2 linked regions of the Homo sapiens genome follow. The protein of the gene in region 1 purifies or fractionates together with the protein of each later gene. This does not show direct contact. Each region holds a gene or a part of one and is shown in the gene's direction. Other genes may lie near its edges.

The links.
Region 2: the proteins of ETV3 (region 1) and COPZ2 purify together in Homo sapiens (affinity purification with mass spectrometry; one large-scale study listed by BioGRID and IntAct). This does not show direct contact.

The regions. Positions count from the first base shown.
Region 1 is NC_000001.11:157,124,896-157,128,543, reverse strand, and holds part of ETV3 (ETS translocation variant 3), read left to right. Parts: exon of another isoform or gene 1-182; intron 183-2,564; coding exon 2,565-3,648. UniProt on the Homo sapiens protein: Transcriptional repressor that contribute to growth arrest during terminal macrophage differentiation by repressing target genes involved in Ras-dependent proliferation. Represses MMP1 promoter activity.
Region 2 is NC_000017.11:48,035,698-48,039,445, reverse strand, and holds the start of COPZ2 (coatomer subunit zeta-2), read left to right. Parts: upstream 1-1,648; 5' UTR 1,649-1,668; coding exon 1,669-1,779; intron 1,780-2,198; exon of another isoform or gene 2,199-2,285; intron 2,286-2,520; coding exon 2,521-2,595; intron 2,596-3,748. UniProt on the Homo sapiens protein: The coatomer is a cytosolic protein complex that binds to dilysine motifs and reversibly associates with Golgi non-clathrin-coated vesicles, which further mediate biosynthetic protein transport from the ER, via the Golgi up to the trans Golgi network.

The DNA.
Region 1 (3,648 bases):
TCCCCAGGTAATGCCTTTGTTCTTATTGGCATCTGTGTAAGAGAATCCAGTGGCCTGACCTGTCTTCCACCCAAAGAGACATGGAGATTAGGCCCAGTCTCGTGCTTGCCTCCCTTTTCCACAGTGTGGCACTGGGCACACTTCTGAACACAAATCTTCTTGCCTTTCTCAATATCACCCGTATTTAATTCTCTCTTTCATCACTGGCAATATGAAGGTTCCTGCTCGGAAGCCAGACGTCCTGCTCTCTAAATCAGTGGCTTAAAAAAAAAAAAGTCCTGCAGAACAGTTTTCTGTGGAACATTAGTTTGGGAAATGAGGCTCTGGCATAGTGTTACTCAGTCCCATGCACCCAGAAAGCTACAGTCTTACGAATACCAGCAGACTCCAGAGTCTGCTAGACCAAGAGGAGAAGGCACCAGCTGATTGGGAGCAATTCATAACCATCCCATATCTGTGTACCTTTTTTGTTTCCACTCCTAGATCACTATACTTAAAATTTTGTTTTTTTCTATTTTTTTCTTCTCCTTTGTTCTTTCTTCACCTTTGCCTGAGAACCCTGCTGACATTATTATAGAAACTGCTGACACCTCCGAGGAACCCACAGGTCCCTGAGACTTCAGATGGCATACCTTTTTCATGTCTTATCAGGAGGATCACTGGGGAAGTTGAGAACTGTGAGCCACTAAAGTTGATGGGCTGGGCGCAGTGGCTCACACCTGTAATCCCAGCACTTTGGGAGGCTGAAGCAAGTTTATCGTTTGAGGCCAGGAGTTCGAGATCAGCCTGGCCAACATGGTGAAACCCAGTCTCTACTAAAAATAACAAAAATTAGCCGGGCATGGTAGCACACACCTGTAATCCCAGCTACTCCAGAAGCTGAGGCACAAGAATCACTTGAACCCAGGAGGTGGAGGTTGCATTGAGCCAAGATGGTGCCACTGCACTCCAGCCTGGGCAACAGAGTGAAACCCTGTCTCAAAAAAAAAAAAAAAAAAAAAGTTGACATAAGTAGCACAGTGTATGTTATCACTTAGAGCTTTACATTTTAGTAAGCAAACTTGGAAGAAGGAATAGTAGGTCCTGGATTTTCTCCCAGCCTCCTTAATGTTTGAAAGCAGGTTGGAGATGGAGATCATTCAGTAGAATTTGTTAGAGGAATATAGATTTGGAGAGATTGAAAAATATTTGAATCTCTGTGAAGCAGTGATTGTATATCAGGAATGATAAAACACTTGGTAATAAGAACTTAACAAATGTGTAGCCTTTTTAAAAATTAAACTGTTTTTACTAAAACATGGTCAGTGTATGTGAGGTATAGGGTCTTTGAGTTTTATCTTTGAGTTTTTAATGCATTACTTTCCATGCATGTCATTTCCAGTTTTGTTGATTTGTTTTTTGGTTTGGTTTGTTTGCTTTTTATATGCGGCGAAGCGGTGCATCCAGGAATGGGGCCTTGGCCCAAGCAGAGCTTCTCTGGAGGTGCAGTCAGCCAGGGCAGCTATGCCCCTCCCCACAGTCAGCCAGGGCAGCTCTGCCCCTCCCCACAGTCAGCCAGGGCAGCTCTGTCCCTCCCCACAGTCAGCCAGGGCAGCTCTGTCCCTCCCCACAGTCAGCCAGGGCAGCTCTGCCCCTCCCCACAGTCAGCCAGGGCAGCTCTGTCCCTCCCCACAGTCAGCCAGGGCAGCTCTTCCCCTCCCTACAGTCAGCCAGGGCAGCTCTGTCCCTCCCTACAGTCAGCCAGGGCAGCTCTGTCCCTCCGCACAGTCAGCCAGGGCAGCTCTGCCCCTCCGCACAGTCAGCCAGGGCAGCTCTGCCCCTCCGCACAGTCAGCCAGAGCAGCTCTGCCCCTCCCTACAGTCAGCCAGGGCAGCTCTGTCCCTCCCCATATCCCATCTCGAAATATATCTGTATTCCAACAAGGAAAAATGGGATAGCATGTGGGTAGTCTAGGCAGTGAGTAAACATCAGATGTCCTCTTGTAGCAACTATCTATATGTTGTTATTATTTTCTATCTTAAATGTTCTCGAATGTTTATATTTCAGTAAACCTCTACCTCGTCACACACACACACGAATATATATATATGGCCAAAATTATGGAAATAAGACTATTTGCAGAGCTAAAAATTGAAACAGGTAATATATACACAATATTTAGAGTTGCAGAGGAGAAGGCTCTTGTACCCATTCATTCATTCCACTTAATATTTATTGTGTACAGGAAGTACACAACCGTTAAGCCCTGAACTGTGAGGTGTACAGTTGTGAACAATAGGAAGTCCCTGCCATGTGGAATTTAGGTTGTAGAATATGGATAAGCAATTACAATGTTTTTGACAGTAAGGAGTACTGTGAAGACAGTGAAGAGCCTAGAGAAGGATGACAAGTTGAGTAGAAGCAGCTGAGCAGTAGTTACTAGGAAGTTGGAGAACTGTGGGATTCAGTCCAGTTGGAATGATTGTTTCCTGTTACTACTAAATATTTTGCACTTAGTTAGCATAAGTGATGATAATGAATGAGCAGTCCTCTGATGCAGGCTTTTGTATTTTCCACCATCACAGGTGTGGTTCCTCAGAGTGCACCACCAGTGCCAACAGCCTCTTCCCGGTTCCATTTCCCACCTCTGGACACCCATTCTCCAACCAATGATGTGCAGCCGGGACGGTTCTCTGCTAGCTCCCTAACTGCTTCTGGCCAGGAGTCCAGTAATGGTACTGATAGAAAGACTGAGCTTTCAGAGCTGGAGGATGGCTCAGCTGCTGACTGGCGCCGGGGTGTGGATCCCGTGTCCTCCAGGAATGCCATTGGTGGAGGAGGGATTGGCCATCAGAAACGCAAGCCTGACATAATGCTTCCTCTGTTTGCTAGGCCAGGGATGTACCCTGACCCCCACAGTCCCTTCGCTGTCTCTCCAATCCCTGGCCGCGGAGGTGTCCTTAATGTCCCCATTTCACCAGCCCTCTCCCTGACTCCCACCATCTTCTCCTATAGCCCATCACCAGGCCTGAGCCCTTTCACCAGCAGCAGCTGCTTCTCCTTCAACCCTGAGGAAATGAAACACTACCTTCATTCTCAAGCTTGTTCTGTGTTCAACTACCATCTGAGTCCTCGGACTTTTCCCCGTTACCCAGGGCTCATGGTTCCACCACTGCAGTGCCAAATGCATCCTGAGGAGTCAACTCAGTTCTCCATCAAGCTGCAGCCCCCACCAGTTGGGCGGAAGAACCGGGAGAGGGTTGAGAGCAGCGAGGAGTCAGCACCAGTCACCACGCCCACCATGGCTTCTATTCCCCCAAGAATCAAGGTGGAACCTGCCTCTGAAAAGGATCCTGAGAGCCTCAGGCAGTCGGCACGAGAGAAGGAGGAGCACACTCAAGAAGAGGGCACTGTGCCAAGCAGGACCATTGAAGAGGAAAAAGGCACCATCTTTGCCCGTCCTGCTGCACCACCCATCTGGCCCTCTGTGCCCATTAGCACCCCAAGTGGAGAACCTCTGGAGGTGACTGAAGACAGTGAGGATAGGCCTGGCAAAGAGCCCAGTGCACCTGAGAAGAAAGAAGATGCACTGATGCCCCCCAAGCTTCGGTTGAAGCGGCGCTGGAATGATGACCCTGAAGCCCGAGAGCTGAGCAAGAGTGGCAAGTT
Region 2 (3,748 bases), on another chromosome or scaffold:
CAGGCTGGAGCACAGTGGCATGATCATGGCTCTGCAGCCTTGAACCCCCAGACTCGGGTGATTCTCCCACCTCAGCCTTCTGAGTAGCTGGGACTACAGGTCACACCACCCTACCTGGCTAATTTCTTTGTAGTTTTAGTAGAGACTAGATCTTACCATGTTGCCCAGGCTGGTCTGGAACTCCTGGGCTCAAGCCTTCTGCCCACCTCAGCCTCCCAAAGTGCTGGGATTACAGATGTGAGCCATTGAGCCCAGACTTGAGACCTTGTTTCTACAAAAATAAAAAAAATAAAAAAATAAAAAATTACCTGGGAGTGGTTGCATGCACCAGTGGTCCCAGCTACTCGGGAGACTGAGATGGGAGGATTGCCTGAGCCCAGGAGGTTGAGGCTGCAGTGAGCCCAGATCGAGTCACTGCACTCCAGCCTGGGCAACAGAGTGAGACCGTGTCTCAAACAAGCAATATTAGTAAAAATAATATTTAGAGATTGAAAAAAGTGCAATGAAAGAAAGAAATAGGAACTGAGAGAATGTGACAGGAGAGACCTATCAAGTCAGATATGGTGGCTGTCAGGAGGACCTTTTGGTAATTATATTTCAGCAGAGGCTTGAAGATAAGAAGACTTGATGCATTCAGTGAGGAAAACCCCATTCTGTAACCATCTAGGGTAAGTGACTGTGGTCCACAACATAAGAGGGCTTGAAGAGAAGAATAGGGAAGAAATTTTGAGTCAAAAATCTGGGTTCTATCCCCAGTCAACTAGCTGTATAGTCTTGAAAAGGTCACACAACCTCTGAGTCTCTCTTTGCTTAAAATGAGGGTCCATTATGCCTATCTTACAGGTGTGGGCTATATTAGATAATGGATGTGAAGGTGTCAAATGTAAAATACACGCACAGTGTTTTTACCGGTAAATGCATACGTAGCACTAACATATCACTGGGATGTGAATTTCCCACTTGCCAGTGTACCCTGAAATGAGAGCTTGTCTTAGTTAGACTTAGACCAAAGAAACCAAAACATGCTGCAAAGCCCGATGTCATTGGTGGAGCATTTGTGCTGCTGGGCGTCTGTCTTGCTTCTGATGGTGCCATATCTGTGACTTAGGAGAGCCTGGGGAGGTGTCTCCGGGCCCATGGTTGCCTTCTGCAAGTAGTGAGAGAGGAATGAGAAAGCCTCTTCACAGAGGGGTGTCCCCAGAACTGTCCTCATTTGCTCTTGCTTATAGACCCTGTCCCTGAGATCTAAAGGGTGACCTGACGTATTTGTCCTCATGGTACCTACCAGAGGTCAACAGACAAAAGTGGGCTTTGCTTGTGTTTGCTGCTGGCCCCAGGACAGCCTATAGACACTGGCGCACACCAAAGCCACAGGCCGGAGAGCAGGCAGGAAGCAGGACGAGGGCTGGTCTTGGGGCACCCTGAGGATGCAGAGTTCGGGGATGTAAGGGACTCGGGAAGGAGCCAAGGAGGAGAGAGGGAGAGGAGAAGTGGGGGAAGGAGAGGTGGGGTGAGGGCGGGAGGGGAGATGGGGGAGAACGAGCAAGAGGACGGGGCCCCGAGGAAAGGGAGGCCACGCGCGAGAGGGGGCCGCGGGGCGGCGCGGAGGCGGGGCGGCGGCGGCGGGCAGGCGGCGGGCGGCGCTGTCAGTGCGAGGCGGCGAGCGGAATGCAGCGGCCCGAGGCCTGGCCACGTCCGCACCCGGGGGAGGGGGCCGCGGCGGCCCAGGCCGGGGGCCCGGCGCCGCCTGCTCGAGCCGGGGAGCCCTCGGGGCTGCGGGTACGGAGCGGGCGGGCGCGGGGATCCCGGGCGGCGGGAGCTGGGCAGGGACAGAGCAGGGTTAGGGGGAGCAGCCAACTCAGAACTCGCGCGCCCGGCGGCTGGGAACTTTGTGTCACCCCTGACTGGCCCCAGGACCCGGGAGGAAAAGTTCGTCCCAGCGCCGACCGGAGAGGAGGCCTGTCCTGAGTCCGTCGGCGCGGGGCTGAAGTTCTGGGTCCGTTTGGAGTGGGGGTGGCGGGTGAGTTGCGATTCCGCGGGGAGGGTAAGGAGTGGCCTGTCCGTCCCAGACTCGGCTCCCATCACCGGTGGGTGATGGGCATGCTTCTGGAGTCTACCCGGGCCAGGGCCTGGGGGCGCGCTGATAGCGCAGGTCCAGCCCGGCCAGGGATCAGCTGGAAGAAGGAGGCTCGGCCCGCTGTCCCCCCCGGCCCAGGTTCTGTGATACACTCCGACTCGGGCTCTGGAGCAGTCAGTGCATGACAGAACTTGGGCCCGGAAGGACCTTCTGCACCCAACGGGCACAGCGCCCACTCGGGGCCTGCAGTGGAACATCTGCCTGGGAGTGGAGTGGGCACCTGGGTTGGCCCATGTGGCACAGGGCTGGGCAGAACCAGCTGTGGACCTTGAGGACTGGGGTTGCTGGGGCCTGAGGATGTATCCTAGGGCCAGCAGATCCCATAGACACAGGGTGTCCACCTCGAGTCAGGGGCCAAACGGAACTCTCCTCTCCGGTGTCAGTTGCAGGAACCTTCCCTCTACACCATCAAGGCTGTTTTCATCCTAGATAATGACGGGCGCCGGCTGCTGGCCAAGGTAACCTCTGACCCCACCCATGAGGGACACAGTTCCCACTCAGCTGACACTCCTGTCTCAGGAGAAACTCCACTGTGATCTCTGTGACTCAGGGCAGCTCAGCTTAGACCCCTCCAGAGGTCCTTCTCATCCTCCTGCCTTGTCAAGGTGCTGCTCCCTGAAATGAGGGGTCTCCTCTATTTCTACTCATGTTCCCTGAAATGTTTCCTTATCATCCTGCTACTGGCCAGTTGGACCTGGGCATGGGAAGGTTCTGCCTAATGGGTCAGTGGAGTGTTGAGCCTGGGACCCAGGAGTCTTAGTCCCCAAACCCCCACACAAGTTCTTTTGTTCTTTGGGGTTTGTCTCTAAACCTCCACTTTTGTTCTACAGCTTGGTAAACACTAACGATTTAGTCTAAGGAGTCTAAGGATTTAGAACCAGATGGGATTTTAGAAACTGTATAATCCAACTCTTTAATTTCGTAGATGAAGAAAATGAGGGGTAGAGAAGCTAAGTGAGTTGCCTGAGGTCACAAGTATTAATATCCTAACAGATCCAAACTCAAATTTTATTTATTTACTTATTTAATTTTTTCACTTCTCCCATTTCACAGGTTTCACAGGCAAACTCGGGTTTTTTGACATGAAGCTCAAGGTGGTTTTCACTGTACCCCCATTCAATTAGCTGTTATCTATCCTAGCAAACATGGCCTGAGCGAACCAAACTAAAATAATCCAAAAATAAATTTCTGCTGTCAACACAATTAATTGTAGGGGAGCTATAGCATCTGCATTAGCTATGAAATGCATTATAAGGCCAGGTGTGATGGCTCATGCCTGTAATCCCAGCACTTTGGGAGGCCAAGGCGGGCAGATCACTTGAGGTCAGGAGTTCGAAACCAGCCTGGACAACATGGTGAAACCCTGTCTCTACTAAAAATACAAAGAATTAGCCAGGCATGGTGGTGGGCGCCTGTAATCCCAGCTACTCGAGAGGCTGAGGCAGGAGAATTGCTTGAACCTGGGAGGCAGAGGTTGCAGTGAGCCGAGATCACACCATTGCACTCCAGCCTGGGCAACAAGAGCGAAACTCTGTCTCAAAAAAAAAAAAAAAAAGAAAAGAAAAAGAAAAGAAATGTGTTGTAAGGCCAGGCGCAGTGGCTGATGCCTGT